2 separate regions of the Homo sapiens genome follow, and region 2 is linked to region 1. Evidence: fine-mapped expression QTL. Tissue or cell type: whole blood. Region 1 holds a variant in brackets; the other region holds the start of a gene. All regions are shown on one strand. Distances are from middle to middle.

What was found. PIP is the estimated chance that this variant, and not a neighbour inherited with it, causes the effect.
Region 2: TMEM50A starts here. The variant in region 1 is fine-mapped to the expression of TMEM50A in whole blood (INTERVAL, PIP above 0.99).

What each region holds. Positions count from the first base shown.
Region 1 is chr1:25,386,001-25,394,000 of GRCh38, forward strand. RHCE (Rh blood group CcEe antigens) reads right to left here. Exons shown (of 10, transcript NM_020485.8): 4 at 5,994-6,141; 5 at 4,749-4,915; 6 at 2,976-3,113. Among named protein-coding and RNA genes, the nearest start is that of RHCE, 31 kb to the right of the region's middle. The variant C/G (reference allele first, on the strand shown) is at 4,874.
Region 2 is chr1:25,332,881-25,343,153 of GRCh38, forward strand. TMEM50A (transmembrane protein 50A) reads left to right here and starts at 5,454. Exons shown (of 7, transcript NM_014313.4): 1 at 5,454-5,576; 2 at 7,594-7,699; 3 at 10,081-10,193. The coding sequence starts at 7,607. It also overlaps a transcript of RSRP1 not described here and the pseudogene LOC124904723. RefSeq lists an enhancer at 1,878-2,408 and silencers at 3,998-4,292, 5,284-5,403.

The DNA.
Region 1 (8,000 bases):
TCAATGGGGAGTTTGTTGAAATGAAGAGCTGGCTTTAGTGGATGTGGGGTGGGGTCTAAGAGCATTTCTAACAAGGTCCCAGGTGATGCCAATGCTGCTCATCTACGGACCACACTATGAGTAGCAAGGGTCTAGTGTAGGCACTATTCACAATTTCAGCTGATAATTCCTTGTGATGGGGGCTGCCCTGTGCACTGTAGGATGTTAAGCATCATTCCTGGTCTCTCCCCACGAGCTGCCAGTAGCAGCCCTCACCCCACTGTGTCAACCAAGAACGCCTCCAGACATTGTCAGATGTCCCCTGGGGGGTGACCAAGACCCACTGGTCTAGCCCAAATTTAAGCACCATCCCAAAGACAACACAGCTGGTTAGAAAGAAAGCATGAGGCCACACCTCTAGATCCCTACTCAGTAATCCTTCCTCCCCATCACTCAGCCTCCCACACAGCCATGAGCCAGCAGATGTGGACACATATGCAAATTCAGTCAGGCTGGTTCCTTCCTTAGGATCCCCATTAGTCTTCAGAATAAAAATCCAGGTCGGGCACGGTGGCTCATGCCTGTAATCCCAGCACTTTGGGAGGCCAACGTGGGTGGATCACCTGAAGTCAAGAGTTCAAGACCAGCATGGCCAACATGGCGAAACCCCGTCTCTACTAAAAACACAAAAAATTAGCTGGGCGTGGTGGAGGGCGCCTGTAGTCCCAGCTACTCAGGAGGCTGAGGCAGGAGAATGGTGTGAACCCGGGAGGCAGAGCTTGCAGTAAGCCAAGATGGCGCCACTGCACTCCAGCCTGGGCAAAAGAGCGAGACACCGTCTCAACAACAACAACAACAACAAAACACACACACACACACACACACACACACACACACACAAATTAGCCAGGCATGGTGGTGGGCACCTGTAATCCCAGCTACTCAGGAGGCTGAGGTAGGAGAATCACTTGAACCCAGGAGGTGGAGGTTGCAGTGAGCTGAGATTGCACCACTGCACTCCAGCCTGGGTGACAGAACGAGACTCTGTCTCAATAAATAAAAAAATAAGTAAATAAAAATCCAGACCCCTCAACTAGCCCAGGAAGTGTGCCTGAGCACCTCCCATCTTTCAGGGATCTGGGTTCACCATGCTCCTGGGTGGACCCTATGCCTTCAGAATGTCTGTTTCCTGGTTGGGCCACACACTCTTCTTACCAATAAGCTTTCATACACACTGTGCCTTCTGCCTGGAATACATTCCCCATGTCTCTGCCTGGCTAATACTACTTCTCTGTCAACACTTGGCTGTCAACCGTTTCCTCTGCTCCAGGAAGCATTTCCGGACCCATCCCAGGCTAGCTCAGATGTGCCCTGTAGCTGTTCTCACACTGTATTCTGTGTATCCATTTCGCTCACTAAACTATAGCTTGAAAAGCAAGATGAGTGTTAAAACGTATGTGTTGAATGAAGGAATGATGAATGAATGAATATATGAATGAATGAGGGAATCATTTTTGAATAGTCCTGCCAGTGATGAAGTCAAGGAAACAAGCTCAGGGAATGCGATGGGCGCTGAGCCTGATGGTAACTTGCTATGTGTTCTTTTTTCTGCCCTTCCTCCTTTCATTTCAGGGTTTCAAAGCCAGAGGAGATAAAAGAAATTTGTTCCCCTTGCAAAGATGAAAATCAGATTTGCCCTGGTTTTGGTCAATCGAAGTATTGATACGTTTTTCCTTATTTATTTTATTTTATTTTTTAATGACCTCCAGTTCCATCCATGTTGCTGCAAATGACAGGATTTCATTCTTTTTATGGCTAAATAATATTCCACTCTGTATATAAAACACTTTTTTTTTTTTAAGACAGAGTCTTGTTCTGTCGCCCAGGCTGGAGTGCAGTGGCGCAATTTCGGCTCACTGCAAGCTCTGTCTCCCAGGTTCAAGTGATTCTCGCATCTCAGCCTCCTGAGTAGCTAAGATGACAGGTGCCCGCCACCACGCCTGGCTAATTTTTGTACTTTTAGTAGAGATGGTTTCACCATGTTGGCCAGGCTGGTCTTGAACTCCTGACCTCAGGCCATCTGCCCGCCTCGGCCTCCCAAAGCGCGTGAGCCACTGCGCCCAGCCAGTTTTTCCTAATTTTAGGTTGGAATGCACTCCCTGAATAGCCCCTGTTCATCCAAATCCAGCCTTCGAAAATCTACTCCTTTTTCCTCCATCAAGTCTTCAAACCCATGAAGATTTGTTGTCCCTAAATATTTCTCTTAGAGAAGCACATTATAACCAATTGGCTATAATGAAGTATTCTGGAACGATCAGGATTTGCTGAGTATTGGAGAAAGATCCATCCACTTAGAAGAAGAATTAAACAATCAGAAGTGGACACGACCTGGACCATCAGCCCAGCACTCCCTCTTCTGGGTGCTGCTCCTCTCACATCATCCACGTGGTTCCCCGGCAGCAGCCACATATGCACGATGTGCCCACCCCCAGCTGAAGACAACATTATCCAAGTTAAACCAAAGAGCCCCTTCTCCAGAGAATTTGGGATTGGGGCCAAGAGATTCCATCCACCAGGCTGCTTTCTTGAAGCAAAAGACTACACCCCACAATGTGGGGTGAAAGAGGAGGAAGCAGGTCTATAGAGTAAGAATAAAGCAGATATTCAGGAAAAGCAAAGAAAGAAGTAAAACAGGGGCTTCTGGGCTCCCCACAACACTCCAGTCCCTGTCCTTGAGTTCTGTGACACCCCTGTAGCCTGGTAACAAATTCTCCCCAGTGCCCAAGCAAGCTCAAATGGGTTCTGCCACCTGCTCCCCAGCATCTTAACAAATGTGCCACCGAGCCAGGATGGATCCCTCGCTAGGCGTTGAAGCCAATAAGAGAATGCACCAACACCTGCCTAATGCAGCTGTGCACTGCACAGTGGCCCATCAGGTCCCAGCGTCCTGCTGGCCTTCAGCCAAAGCAGAGAGCATTAGTTGTCTAGTTTCTTACCGGCAGGCACTTGGCTCCCCCGATGGAGATCAGCCCAGCCACAAGACCCAGCACCATGGCAAGCCACGGAGAAGGGATCAGGTGACACGAGGTACCCACAGCCACGCCTCCTGCCAACACCGCACTGTGCACATAAGTCTGCAAAGAAATAGCGTGTGGGTAAAGGAAGCAAGGTAGAGAGAGAACACCATCTTGCTGCAAGTGACCAGCACGCTGGGAACAAGGCAACCCTGTAACATCCTCCCTGCTTTGCTGATCCTGAAACCACCTCTCCCCTGTGTTGGGGCTACGTGTCCTTCATCAGTGGACACGGTGGGCCAGCTCACTACTGCCTCTTAGGCTCAGGGCACAGTTACCCTGATTGTGCAGCATTTAGGGAATGAGCTGGGAAGTCCAGGTGCTCAGCATCCTAGGCACCCATCACACTCATTAGTGGTGTGTCCCTGGACAGCGGGAAGAATGGGTTTTTGTTTTATTTTTTAGAGACAGGGTCTTGCTATGTTGCCTGGGCTGGTCTTGAACTCCTGGCCTCAACCAATCCTCTTGCCTCAGCTTTCCAAAATATTGGGATTACAGGTGTGAGCCACTGCACCTGGCCTAGAAGAATGGGGTTTTGGATGTACCTTCTTCATAAGGTTATTGTAAGGATTAAATGAGTTTCCACATATAAAGCTCTTAGTCCAGTGTCTGGCATAGAACATGAATAAATGCCCAATAGACATAAATCATTGTTATTGTTTTTATTATTATTATTGGCTACTTGGTGCCTGTGCCACCCTGTGTGACTGGTCCCAGTTCCAATAAGCTGGGCCTTGTTCCTGGGTTATAGCTCTGCTATGTCCTTCACTACTCCAGAACCGGAGCCTTGCCTTGCTCTTATCTGACACCCTCAGCTCTCACCTAGGTTTAGCCTCTGAGCTTCCCTGAGCTGACACCCACTCCTGCCTTGCTAGGTGTCTTAGACTTTCTGTCACCATGGAACTCATGGCCACTCACTTCCTCTTAGCACTGAATTCTGCTGTGAAGCTGTCATCTGTGGCCACATTCTTTCCACTCCAGCCCCCCCAGTGCCTCCCACCCGAGCCCCACCACTGGTCTGTCCAGACTTCCCTCCGACACCACCAGCTGGACCCCCTGCCCCCATCATCATGAGAACTTGTTTTGTCTCCCCTCTCACCCATCTCTGCCCACAAGACTCACACACACCATTGTCTCTCTGTACTAATAGCAGCAGCTAATGTTTGCCTACCATTTACTCCCCGTTAAGCACTTTACATGCACCATCTCTTAATTCTCACTTTACAGATGAGGCCACTGAGACTCAAAACGTTGAAGTGGCTTGACCAGAGCCACATGGCTAGTGTCACATACTTCTCTACTTCTGATTCTGATGGTTCCATTCTTGAAATTTGTTGGGGGGAAGAGAGAGGCTGGCTAATTCTAGTCTAGTCTGTTGCTGCTGACTCTCGCTCATGGTGACTGACTTGAGCAACTAGCAGAAACGGGGTTCAAACTCAGGTCTGTTTCATGTTAGCATGGATGGATTTAATCACTCCCCCCAGAAAGCCTTTGATCACTGGACAGTCTCCTGAGTCCCAGGCCCCCTGTGACCACCCAGCATTCTTCCTAGAGCTCCACTGTAGAGGCAGGCACAGCTCCACCACCCGGCATGCCCTCTCCCAACCCACGCTGGCCCTGGGGTGGGGAGGGGCATAAATATGTGTGCTAGTCCTGTTAGACCCAAGTGCTGCCCAAGGGCAGCGCCCTGCTCACCATGCTGATCTTCCTTTGGGGGTGAGCCAAGGATGACCCTGAGATGGCTGTCACCACACTGACTGCTAGAGCATAGTAGGTGTTGAACATGGCATTCTTCCTTTGGATTGGACTTCTCAGCAGAG[C/G]AGAGTTGACACTTGGCCAGAACATCCACAAGAAGAGGGCGCCTGGGGGCCAGAGAGGGTGGTTGGCCAGAATCACACTCCTGCTCCAAAGGTCTGAGCCTCGAGGGGTTTTGGATGAGAATCCTAGGGCTGGAGAGTCTCAGCCTTGTCACTTAGAGTTAGATGGGGAAGTCACGTCTCCCCTCCGAGCTCTCAAGCTGATACCAGCTAACCACATTTTACAGACAAGGAAACAAAGGCCAAGAGGGTTGAAATCTGCATACCCCAGGCCTCCTGAACCTGCTCTGTGATGGTCAAATGCTTATTTTAATTTTTTTTTCTTTTTAATTGAGATGGACTCTTGCTCTGTTGCCCAGGCTGGAGTGCAGTGGCGCGATCTTGGCTCACTGCAACCTCCACCACCTGGATTCAAAAGATTCTCCTGCCTCAGCCTCCCAAGTAGCTGGGATTACAGGCGTGCACCACCATGCCCAGCTGATTTGTTTGTATTTTTAGTAGAGATGGGGTTTCGCCCTGTTGGCCAGGCTGGTCTCGAACTCCTGACCTCAGGTGATCCACCCACCTTGGCCTCCCAAAGTGCTGGGATTACAGGCTTGAGCCACCACGCCTGGCCCAAACGCTTATTTTTTTTTTTTTAATGAATGTGCTGCTTTAACTTGACCCCGTGGCCTGATAGTCCTTTGCCTACTATCAAGCTCACTGCCCGATTTTCTATTAGCCTCTCCCAGCAGTCTAAGTTCATCATTTTCCCAGTAGATTTTCAAAGTACAACATTATTACTATTCCCACCCTTGTTCCTTCACTCCTGGGCCCTACCTTCTTCACTTGTCCGTTTCCCTCCTTTCAGTTGAAAACAAAGGGATTGGATAAACTTATTGAAACTCACACATAATGAGTCTCTCCTTTCTAGTGGATATTAATGAAGAGAGGTCCCTAAAAGGAAGTGCTTAATTCAAAGGTATGAATTTAGCAAACACTACTCAAAGAAGTGAATCATGATGGAAGGGCTTCAGACACCCAGGGGAAGTTGGTAAAGGAGGGAGATTTTTTCAGCCAGAGCCTTTTCTGAGCCATTCTGCTCAGCCCAAGTATGAGACCACTCACCCCACCTTGTCCTTACCCAGCATGGCAGACAAACTGGGTATCGTTGCTCTCTGATCATTATCCTCCGTTCCCTTGGGTAGAGGCTTTGGCAGGCACCAGGCCACAGTCAGCCCAAAATAGGCTGCGAACACGTAGAAGTGCCTCAGGTTCATGTGGTAGTCTGTCTGCAATAAAACCCAGTAAGAGCAGTGAGTGTCGGCATCCTCTGCCCAGGGGAAAGCCCTGATGGTCCTTGGAGAAAGTTCAGAGCTTCACTTAGGAGGTGTGACTTGAAGCCACGAGACTGGTGTTCAGAGCTTACCCAGCCCAACCCAGCAGGCTTTGCCCAGGCTGGAGTGCAATGGCACGATCTCGGCTCACTGGAACATTTGCCTCCCAGGTTCACGCGATTCTCCTGCCTCAGCTTCCCTAGTAGCTGGGATTACAGGCATGCGCCACTACGCTGGGCTAATTTTGTATTTTTAGTAGAGATGGGGTTTCACCGTGTTTGCCAGGCTGGTCTCAAACTCCTGACCTCAGGCGATCCACCCGCCTCGGCCTCCCAAAGTGCTGGGATTACAGGCATGAGCCACTGTGCCCGGCCTCTTTTTTTTTTTTTTTTTTTTTTTTTTGAGACAGAGTCTTGCTCCATTGCTCAAGCTGGAGTGCAGTGGTGTGGCCACAGCTCACTGTAGTCTCCAACTCCCAGGCTCAAGCAATCCTCCCACCTCAGCCTCCTAAGTAGCTGGGATTACAGGAGTGCACAACCATGCCTGGCCAATTTTTAAATTTTGTGTAAAGATGGAATCTCACTATGTTGCTCAGGCTGGTCTCGAACTCCTGGGCTCAAGAGATCCTTCCCTCCCAAAGTGCTGAGATTACAGGCATGAGCCACCACGCCCGGCCTATCAGTAGCTCTTATATGCTTTTGACCAAGGTTCACTTAGGTGTGGCAAAAACCCACATGGACACGCACTTCACTGATTCCTACTTCTCAGCGGAATTTTAACTCTGCAGGAGTGATGAGTGATATAAATTTTGCAACATGAAGCAACCAGACTTCTTGTAATACCAAACTAAGGTCTTCGGGAGATTCTAGATATATTCTAATTTTGCATCATGACTATCACATTTTAGTAATGCTTCATAACTTATTTAGTGGGCTACTGGAGAAAGCTGTCAGCTGTGCTTTCTAAAAATACCCAGAATTGGCAGGATTTTTAGCACCATTTCCCACTGACCCCATCTTGGTTTAAGCCACCATCACCGCTACCCCAAATTGTTACAGTAACCTCCTAACTGGTCTCCCCATTTCCACCCTTGTCTTCCTGCGGACTGTTCTCCACACAGCAGACAGAGTGACCCTGTTAAAATGCAAGTCAGGCCGGGCGTGGTGGCTCAAGCCTGTAATCTCAGCACTTTGGGAGGCTGAGGTGGGTGGATCACCTGAGGTCAGGAGTTCGATACCAGCCTGGCCAACATGGCAAAACCCTGTCTCTACTAAAAATACAAAAATTAGCCAGGCGTGGTGATGCTTGCTTGTAATCCCATCTACCTGGGAGGCTGAGGCAGGAGATTCACTGGAACCTGGGAGGCAGAGGCTGTAGTGAGCTGAGATGGCGCCACTGCACTCCAGCTTCGGCGACAGAGTGAGACTGCGTCAAATAAATAAATAAAATAAAATGCAAGTCAGATCATGTTACTCCTCTGCTCAGAAGCCTCCAGCGGCTCCCATGTCACTCAAAGTCAAGGTCCAGGTTCTTGCCACGACCCTGCAGGATCCACTCTCACCTGACCTCTCGGGCGTCACCTCCTATTGCACTCCTCCACTTGCTCATCCTCAAACCCACTAGCGTGTTCCCACTTTGGGTCATTCAGCTGCCTGAAATGCTGACCCCCAGCCAGGGTGTAACAAGGGCAGGATGGAGGGAGTAGTCCACCCTGGGTGCAAGCAATCGGGGTGCCTTGTCTGCAGAGGGTGTCTAACAATTCTAAAGCCAACTAAAAAGTCTGTCTGCTTTTTATTTTTATTTATTTATTTATT
Region 2 (10,273 bases), 52 kb before region 1:
TGAGAAGTCCCACAACAGATTGTCTGCAAGCTGGAGACCCAGGGATACTGGTAGCATGGCTCAGTCCAAGTCCCAAAGTCTCAGAATCAGGAAAGCTGATGATATAATTCTTAGCCCAAAGGCCTTAGAACCCCAGCGGTGACGGAAAGGCTGGTGTAGGTCCTGGCGTCCTGAGACCCAACAGCCTGGGATCCTGAAATCCAAGGGCAGGAATGGAAGCGTGTATTCCAGCTCCAAGAGAGTAAGACCAATTTGCCTTTCTTCCGTTTTTGTTCCAAGCCAACTGCACGTTGAGGGCGGATGGTTCCCTCTTAGCCCATTCAGTCATATATCAATCTCTTCTGGAAATACCCTCACAGACACACTAACAAATAATGCCTTTCCAGTTCTCTAGGTATTCTTTAATCCAGTCAAGCTGACACCTAAAATTAACCATCACAAAAGTTAAGGAGAAAGAAGACAACTTGTAGGAGAGGCTGCTATGCAAGACAGTGTGTGAAGGAAGGGCTCTCTGAAGAGGTTAATATCTGAGCAGAGACTTGAATGAAGTGAAGAAGTGAGCCATGTGGGTATGGGGAATACAACTTCCAGGTAGAGAAGACAAGTGTGGTGTGTATCACGGTCAGCAAAGAAGCCATGTGACAGAGAAGGGTGGGCCAGGGAGAGACGGATAAGTGATCTAACTCCTGAGGAGGTGGCCTGGCCAGGAGCTAGAGCATGAGGATCTCGTAGGATTTTATTCTGCAAGGTGAAAAGCCATTGTATTAGTCTGTTCACAAACCCCAGACTAGGCAATTTACAAAAGAAAGAGAGGTTTAATGGACTTACAGTTCCACATGGCTGGGGAGGCCTCACAATCATGGCGAAAGGCAATGAGGAGCAAGTCACGTCTTACGTGGATGGCAGGCAAAGACAAAGACAGCTTGTGCAGAGAAACTCCCCCTTATAGAGCCATCAGATCCTGTTAGACTTATCACTATCACGAGAACAGCACGGGTAAGACCTGTCCCCATGATTCAGTTACCTCCCACTGGGTCCCTCCCACAACGCATGGGAATTCAGGATGAGATTTGGGTGGGGACACAACCAAACCCTATCATTCCACCCATGGCCCCTCCCAAATTTCATGTCCTCACATTTCAAAACCAATCACACCATCCCAACAGTCCCTCAAAGTCTTAAATGATTTCAGCATTAACTCAAAAGTCCACAGTCTAATGTCTCATCTGAGACAAGGCAAGTCCTTTCCATCTATGAGCCTATAAAATCCAAAGCAAGTTAATTACTTCCTAGATACAATGGGGGTACAGGCATTGGGTAAATACAGCCATTCCAAATGGGATAAATTGGTCAAAACAAAGAGGCTACAGGCCCATGAGAGTCCAAAATCCAGTGGGGCAGTCAAATCTTAAAGCTCCAAAATGATCTCCTCTTGACTCCACATCTCACATCCAGGTCACGCAGATGGAAGGGGTGGGTTCCCATGGTCTTGGGCAGCTCTGCCCCTGTACCTTTGCAGGGTACAGCCTCCCTCTCAGCTGCTTTCATGGGCTGGCATTGAGTGTCTGCAACTTTTCCAGGTACACGGTGCAAGCTGTCGGTGGATCTACCATTCTGGGGTCTGGAGGACCTCTTCTCACAGCTCCACTAGGTGGTGCCCCAGTAGGGACTGTGTGTGGGGTCTCTGACCCCACATTTCCCTTCTGCACTGCCCTGGCAGAGGATCTCCATGAGGGCCCTGCCCCTGCAGCAAACTTCTGCCTGGGCATCCAGGCATTTCCGCACATCCTCTTTAATCTAGGCGAAGGTTTCCAAACCCCAGTTCTTGACTTCTGTGCACTCGCAGTCTCAACACCACATGGAAGCTGTCAAGGCTTGGGGCTTGCACTCCCCGAAGCTACAGCCCAAGCTCTACCTTGCCTCCTGTCAGTCATGGTTGGGAGTGGCTGGGATGCAGGGCACCAAGTCCCTAGGCTGCACACAGCATGAGGACCCCGGGCCTGGCCAACAAAACCATTTTTTCCTGATATCTCTGGACCTGTGATGGGAGGGGTTGCCATAAAGACCTCTGACATGCCCTGGAGACATTTTCCCCATTGTCTTGGGAATTAGCATTTGGCTCCTGTTACTCATGCAAATTTCTGCAGCCAGCTTGAATTTCTCCTCAGAAAATGGGAATTTTTCTTTTCTATCACATTGTCAGGCTGCAAATTTTCCGAACTTTTATGCTCTGCTTCCCTTATAAAACTGAATGTCTTTAACAGCACCCAAGTCACCTCTTGAATGCTTTGCTGCTTAGAAATTTCTCCTGCCAGATACTCTAAATCATCTCTCTGAAGTTCAAAGTTCTACAAATATCTCGTGCAGGGGCAAAATGCCGCCAGTATCTTTGCTAAAACATAACAAGAGTCCCCTTTGCTCCAGTTCCCAACAAGTTCCTCATTTCCGTCTGAGACCACCTCAGCCTATGGACTTTATTGTCCACAGTGCTATCAGCATTTTGGGCAAAGCCATTCAACAAGTCTCTAGGAAGTTCCAAACTTTCCCACATTTGCCTGTCTTCTTCTGAGCCCTCCAAACTGTTCCAAACCCTGCCTGTTACCCAGTTCCAAAGTCACATACCCATTTTTGAGTATCTACGGCAGCACCCCACTCTACTGGTACCAATTTAGCCACTGAAGTAGTTGGAGAACAGAAGTAATAGACTCTGGTTTACATTGTAAAAGCTTCTCTGTGGCTGCTGTGTGAAGAAAATATATGAGAATGAAGCCCCAAGATGAAGCAGGGACACAGTTGCAGTGGTTAGAGTAAGAAATGCTGCTGGCTGGCACTGAAGTGATAGCCTGGAGGTTTGTGTGTGCACATGCATGTGTATGTGTTTTACGATAGTAGGCCCAACAGATACTGTAATCCACACTTGTTTTTTTTTTTTTGAGACAGAGTCTCACCTGTTGCCTAGACTAGAATGCAGTGGCACAATCTTGGCTCACTACAACCTCCACCTCCCAGGTTCAAACAATCCTTGTGCTTCAGCCTCCCGAGTAGTTGGGATTACAGGTGTGTGCCACCGTGCCCAGCTATATTTTTTGTATTTTTAGCAGAGATGGGATTTTGCCACATTGGCCAGGCTGGTCTTGAACTCCTGGCCTCAAGCAATCCTCCCACCTTAGCCTCCCAAAGTGCTGAGCCACCACACCTGGCCGCAACTGATTTTTAATCATGAAATGACACATACATTTAAAAAACCCAATACCTATAATATTCCTGGCTAGTACTCTTCACATCTATATCATCAAAAACAAAGAAAGTATGTGAAACTGACACAGCCAAGGGGAGACTAAGGAGACATAACAATTAACTGTAATGTGGTATTCTGGAGGGGATCCTGGAACAGAAAAAGACATTAGGCAAAAAACTAAAGAAATCTGAATAAAATGTGGATGTCAGTTAATAATAATGTATCATATTAGTCCAGTAATTGTAACAAATATACCACAATAATGAAAGCCATTAATTATAGGGAAAATGGAGGGGTTAATATGGGTGGCTGGCTTTTGCTATTTCTAGCAGCTCCATTTTATCTACAAAAGACAAACATTCATTAAGTCCCAAAAAGGTAAAGAATGACAAATTAAGCATGTATCTTATTAGTAAGAGTAATATAAAGATGCTCACTCATATTTATAAATATTTGACAATCATGTTAAGGCCAGAAAAGAGAAAAAAGGGTAGGGGCAAAAAACGCAAAGAGAAAGGAGTTAGTATCTTTTCTCCCGCACTCATTAGCTATTAAAAGAGGATGTTTGTTTAAAGCTGCTCAGAGCTGGTAAACTAATGTTAAGTCACTAACGGGAATTTAAAAGGTTTCATTAAGAACTGCCTGCACTAGATTCCTCCACCCTGAGACATTAAACAATCACGATAAACCTCCTGAGTGGTAAGAACGTGTCCATTTAAAAACAGGCTATAGATTGTCATGCAGTTTTATCTACTAATCGGCTAATGCACCGCCAAAAACAAACAAAAAAACCCAAAGGGATGAAAGTTTCATCCATCAAAGGAAACAACAGTCACCTTGGTTCCCATCCCACTCATATACTGCCGCCGTACATGTCAATCAGATGAACCTGTGCGTATCTCTTAACGACAATTGACCCACCTTTTTAACTGAAGTGAAGGGGGGTTCTGCTCCGCGACCACTTCCTGGATCTCTCCCTTCACCCTCTGTGTTCTTTCGGGTGCACCATCGGGTCAAAGCCGCAGCAACGCCGTCTCTGTGTGATCGCATGTGCCCTTCTGCACACGACCTTCCCCCGAGAGTGACCAGCTACCGGACAGGCACCAAGGAGGGCTACCGAGCACCTCCCGGACCGGCGGCTGCAGGATCGCGAGCGCCTCCGCTAGGGAGACCGCACGTTGCGCCTGTGCTTCCTGCGGTGGCGCCTTCTGCAAGGAGACCTCGACCCTGCTCCCTCTCCGGGGCTGGATCTGACTCCTTGACGGTGATTCCAGACGCGAGACCCAAACTGACGGCTTCTAGAAGAGGGGCGAGCCCGGCCGCAAGTCTTTCACGTAGCTAAGTCATCGTTGCTTCCGGCTTCTTACCGTTCTCCCCTTTGTAAACGGTTACCTCCCGAAAACCCAGGCTCTCCTCCAACAGTGGTTCTCAAGCGAGGCGATCTTCCCCGGGAGGGGATATTTGGCAAAGTCTGGGGGCATTTTTGGTTCACTGGGGCTGCTACTTGCATCCACTGGGTAGAGGCGGGGGATGCAGCTACACAACCTGCGAAGCACGGGACAGCACCCTCCCCAACCCAGACAGAATTAGCCGGCCCAAAACCTCAGTAGTGCCCAGGCTGAGAAACCCTGCCTTAAACAAACAACAAAGAAAGGCCAAGTCCCATAAGTGGGTCACCGCGCCGAGACTGGGGTCCACGGGACACCCCAGCCACGCCAAGCCGGGAAGTCCCCGCCTCCTGGAGCTGAACCCGCCCCTCTCCCAGAGGTGGAGCTGCGGGGGGCGGGAACAGGCACGGAGAAAATAAACAAGACTAAAAAGTCCTGAGTAGCGCTGTGTGGCCGCAAACCTGAACCCACCTTTTGCACCACGCGGGACCCGGCACTCTTCCTGCCACCCACCCCTGAGAGGGCTGCGCGGCCGACCCCAGTACTAGAAAACACTCGTCACCTCACTCAAGACGGGTACGAAGGCCAACGGACGCCTTCCTTTAGAACGCTCAGCACACAGAGCAACTTCTCACGCCTACTCTCAAATGGCGTACTCCAAACTAGCACTCCCGACGTCCAGCTGTGAACCCAGAGCGGCGGAAAGCCCCTGAACCCAGCGCCCGGGCATGCGCAGACGCGTTGTTGTGGTGGGCGTGGCTCCCTCCGGACCCGGCGCCCCGCCCTCCGCCCCGTGTCCGCATGCGCGACTGAGCCGGGTGGATGGTACTGCTGCATCCGGGTGTCTGGAGGCTGTGGCCGTTTTGTTTTCTTGGCTAAAATCGGGGGAGTGAGGCGGGCCGGCGCGGCGCGACACCGGGCTCCGGAACCACTGCACGACGGGGCTGGACGTAAGTGTCGGGCGGGGAGTGGGGGTAAGAGAGTAGCGGCCGCAGGCTGGAGAGGCCTCGGAGCCGGGGCCGTCTGACGGGCTGGTGCCCACAGCACAGGCTCGTTGCCGCCACCCTCCCGGAAGCCGCAGACCCGGGCTGAGCCGCCGCGGACCTCTCCTCTCCTGGGTCCGGCGGCGCCAGGAGAAGGCGACGGCGTCCAGACCCCGCCAAGACGGAGAGGGGACCGCGCCCTCCCCCGGGACACCCCAGGATCCCTGGAAAATCCCCCGATCCCCCACTTCACAGCTGGACAAGCCGAAGCCCCGAGAAAGGAGCGTGACCCGGCCAGCTCCCTCAGCGAGGGGTGCCCCGGCTAAAGGTGGCTCCCCCATCTTCCAGCGGCGTCCCTCGAGACCTAAAAGTCCCAGAGTTTGGAGGGCGGGGTCTGGCTTGAGCGTACCAGTCGTCGTGCAAAGAAAAATGGATTCGGGGTGGGGCCATTGGGATGAACCGAAAATAACACTTATTGAATTGCAGTTCTTCCCGGGGAAGAATCAAATGAGTGAATTTCCTAAATTGAACTTGTCCCAAAGGCATCTTAGCATTGGCTGTAATCATATATTTTAATATTTAATTTTTAAAAGAGAAGTTAAAAATGGGAGACGTTGCTCTATTGTAGGGTGTCATATTTTTGGACAACCATAATTGCTGGCTACAAAGTATCTTAAGGAAGTCAAGTTCGCTGTAGGAGTTTGGGTGTTGTTATTCGCAAGTTATATGTATTTCAGGCTTTTTCATACTCTGAAATAGAGATAACATGGCTGTATCTCAGGTCTCTACTGCTCGGCTTACAGGAATGTTTTATATAATTTGTAAAGACAGCTTGGGTCGGCTATATTTAAATAGCAGTTGGATTTTTGTAATCTGAATTACTATTAACCACGATTCTGTGCTTGCTTTTGGCTGGAAACACCCGTTAGGATCAGAGATAGGGATATTAAAGTGGATGTTCTTTATATAGAAATGACACCAAAAGGCAGGCTTGCAGAAAGAAAAATAATGAATGAAGTGAAAGGAAATGATGTGGGTAGAGGTAAGAACTGCAGTGCAGTGTTTAATTTCTTGATTTAGGTGTGAAGAAACACACGTTCTGTGATAAAATATGTAAATTAGAGAAATATTTTTCATTTGAATCTGTAATTCCACTCAGAGCCAAAGTTTATCACTTGTCTCTCTACTAATGTTAGTGCTCCTGGACTGTAAATATCAAATTCATTTAATAAGTTTGGAATCAAAATGATACAAAAGAGCTCCTGTGGATTAGTAATCATATACTTGGTATTAAAAGTACCACCTAAACTAATTTAATACCTACTTAGAAATAATAGGATGTGACAGATTTTCAGGAGGAGGTCAACCAGTAGTTAAAATTTTTTCAATATTTGGAGACCCACCTTTGTTAATACTGCTTAAATATATCCAAACCATTTATTTCTATTTATTTATTATTATTTTTGAGACAGAGTCTTGCTCTGTCGCCCAGGCTGGAGTGCAGTGGCACGATCTCGGCTCACTGCAACTTTCGACTCCCAGGTTCAAGCGATTCTCCTGCCTCAGCCTCCCAAGTAGCTGCGATTACAGACATGCGCCACCACCCCCGGCTAATTTTTGTATTTTTAGTAGAGATGGGGTTTGCCATGTTGGCCAGGCTGGTCTCAAACTCCTGACCTCAGGTGACCCACCCACCTCAGCCTCCCAAATTGGTAGGATTACGGGCATGAACCACCACGCCCGGCCCCCAAACCATTTTTTACATTAAAAAAGATACTAAATGAATCCAGATATTACTTTCCAAAGTTATAATGTGGAAATTCATCAAAAACTAAATCAAATATTCTGAAGAAGTATGTGGAACCAAAATAAAGCATTTGTAATTTCACTTTTATCTAATTATTCCTGAGCTATTAATTATTTTTCGGGCTTGAAGCAAGTAAATGGAAGTACTTATTTAATTGTTTGTTTGTTTGTTTTTAAGTGACCTGAAAAAAATGTCTGGATTTCTAGAGGGCTTGAGATGCTCAGAATGCATTGACTGGGGGGAAAAGCGCAATACTATTGCTTCCATTGCTGCTGGTGTACTAGTAAGTGTCATTGATTATTTGGGCCTTATTTTTTGGTGCGTTTGTGTTTATGGGTTTTGAATTCTGCAGGATGTTTTAAAATATGTACTATTTATTTTATCTTTGACCACTTTGACCATGTTGATATTTTGTTGTTTGTGGAGAGTTATTAGTTCCACTTTAAGAGTTTATGGTTTAAAATTTGATTAACAAGTGGTTGGGTTGTTTTAACTGCATGGTAAAAATGGCATAATAAAACATTTGTTCATTATATGGATTATATCTCCTTTTAATGAGTATATTAAGGTACAAGGAAGTGTTTAAGACGCAGTCAGGTCAAAACCAGTCAATAGATGTGATTGCATTTCTCCATAATCCAGTTAACTTTCTTCTCAGTCTCAGGGAAAAAAAAGTGCTCGCTTTGGCAACACATACACTAAGATTGGAATAATACAGAGAAGATTAGCATGGCCCCTTAAAATTTTTTTTTAAAAAGCAAAAACAAAAAGGAAACTCATTAAAATACATTGTGTGGAAGTAATTTACAGAATAAAATTCTTATTTACACTTCAGATCCCTCAAGGGATCTGCTATTAGTTTTTTATGATCATATGGTGTCGTAGGCTCTAAAGAGTAATTTTTTATTTTTATTTTTTGAGATAGAGTTTTGCTCTTGTTTTTTTGTTGTTGTTGTTTTTGTTTTTTTTGGTTTTTTTTGAGACGGAGTCTCAGTCTGTCGCCCAGGCTGGCGTGCAGTGGCGCAATCTCAGCTCACTGCAAGCTCCGCTTCCCGGGGTTCACGCCATTCTCCTGCTTCAGCCTCCCGAGTAGCTGGGACTACAGGCGCCCGCCACTGCGCCCGGCTAATTTTTTTGTATTTTAGTAGAGACGGGGTTTCGCCGTGGTCTCGATCTCCTGACCTCGTGATCCGCCTGCCTCGGCCTTGCAAAGTGCTGGAATTACAGGTGTGAGCCACCGCGCCTGGCCTTGCTCTTGTTTTAGTAGAGACGGGGTTTCTCCATGTTGGTCAAGCTGGTCTTGAACTCCCGACCTCAGATGATCTGTCTGCCTCGGCCTCCCAAAGTGTTGGGATTACAGGCATGAGCCACCGCACCAAGCCATTTTTTCTTAAGCTTTAAGATTTATTTATTTTCGAGACAGGGTCTCACTCTGTCTCCCAGGCTGGAGTACAGTGGTGAAATCACTGCTCATTGCAACCTCGACCTCCCGGGCTCAGGTGATCCTCCCACCTCAGCCTCCGGAGTAGCCTGGACCACGGATGAAGGCCACCACACCGGGCTAATTTTTGTTTTTTTTTTTGTTTGTTTTTTTTGTAGAGATGAGGTCTCTCCATGTTGCCCAGGCTGGTCTCCTACTCCTGGGCTCAAGTGATTCACTGGCCTTGGCCTCCCAAGGTCCTGAGATTACAGGCTATTGCACCTGGCCAAAAAGCTTTGAGTTTTTAGTCTATGAAGAAAATATCTTAAATACATTGAGCTGAGGGTAAAAAGAAAGGCATATGTACTCATGCTAGCCATTAAAAATGTTATTAATCGAGTATGGATCTGTCTGTAACCTGATAAAAGTAATTTGACTAGCCTAAAATTGTTACTTTAAAATAATTGCCAGAAGATGTCAGTTGCCAGAGCTAACTGAGTCAGGGTTTGGTGTGGGGATAGGAAAGGAAAGGGGGTTACTTTTAAAATCTTCTAGGCTACTTGTCAGAATTTGGTTAATATAATTTTATTGTAAATATCTGCTCAGATGATAAAAACTGTTTTTGAAGTTTTGGCGTTATTTTGTTATACCTTTGCCCTTGATAATATCTAGAGCCAAATTCAATTAGATAAATTGTAATCTGGTGTTTAAATTAAATTTAAAATCACACCTGAAACCATATTTAGACTGCACTGGAATTCATCAAAAGCAGAACCTCAGAGCTGTTATTTCACACCAAGAAGATAGCTAAAATTCTGTGAACAATAGTTGTTCTCCATATTAATTTGAATGCTTTTTTCTTGATTTTGGGGAATATTTCTCTGGAAGTTTATCATATATCAACAGGACACTTCTGTCAGTTGGAATTGGAGTCACTTTTTTCCTTTCCCCCTCCATGAGATAACTGGTTTCTAGTTCACCAAATTAGATTACAAGGCTTTATTATGATAAAAATTAAATAATGATTGAAGTAGGCTTAGAGAAAAGTTATGTTAATAAATATAAATTGCTCTCAGATTTAAGGGTACCTAATCAGTTATTAGGCCATGTGCAAATTACATGTGGGAAAAAGCTAGAACATTTTTGAAATGTATTAAAAGGGATCTCCTCACTTAAATACCTTGCTTTTAGCCAGTGAGATACAGAATTGCTATGATTTCTCATTGGTATCACCTTTGTTTTAGTTTTTTACAGGCTGGTGGATTATCATAGATGCAGCTGTTATTTATCCCACCATGAAAGATTTCAACCACTCATACCATGCCTGTGGTGTTATAGCAACCATAGCCTTCCTAATGTAAGTGTCATCGTAATTGGCATTACTTACATAGCTTGCCACAAAATAAAAATGTTTCAAATATAGTTGCATAGATTTAA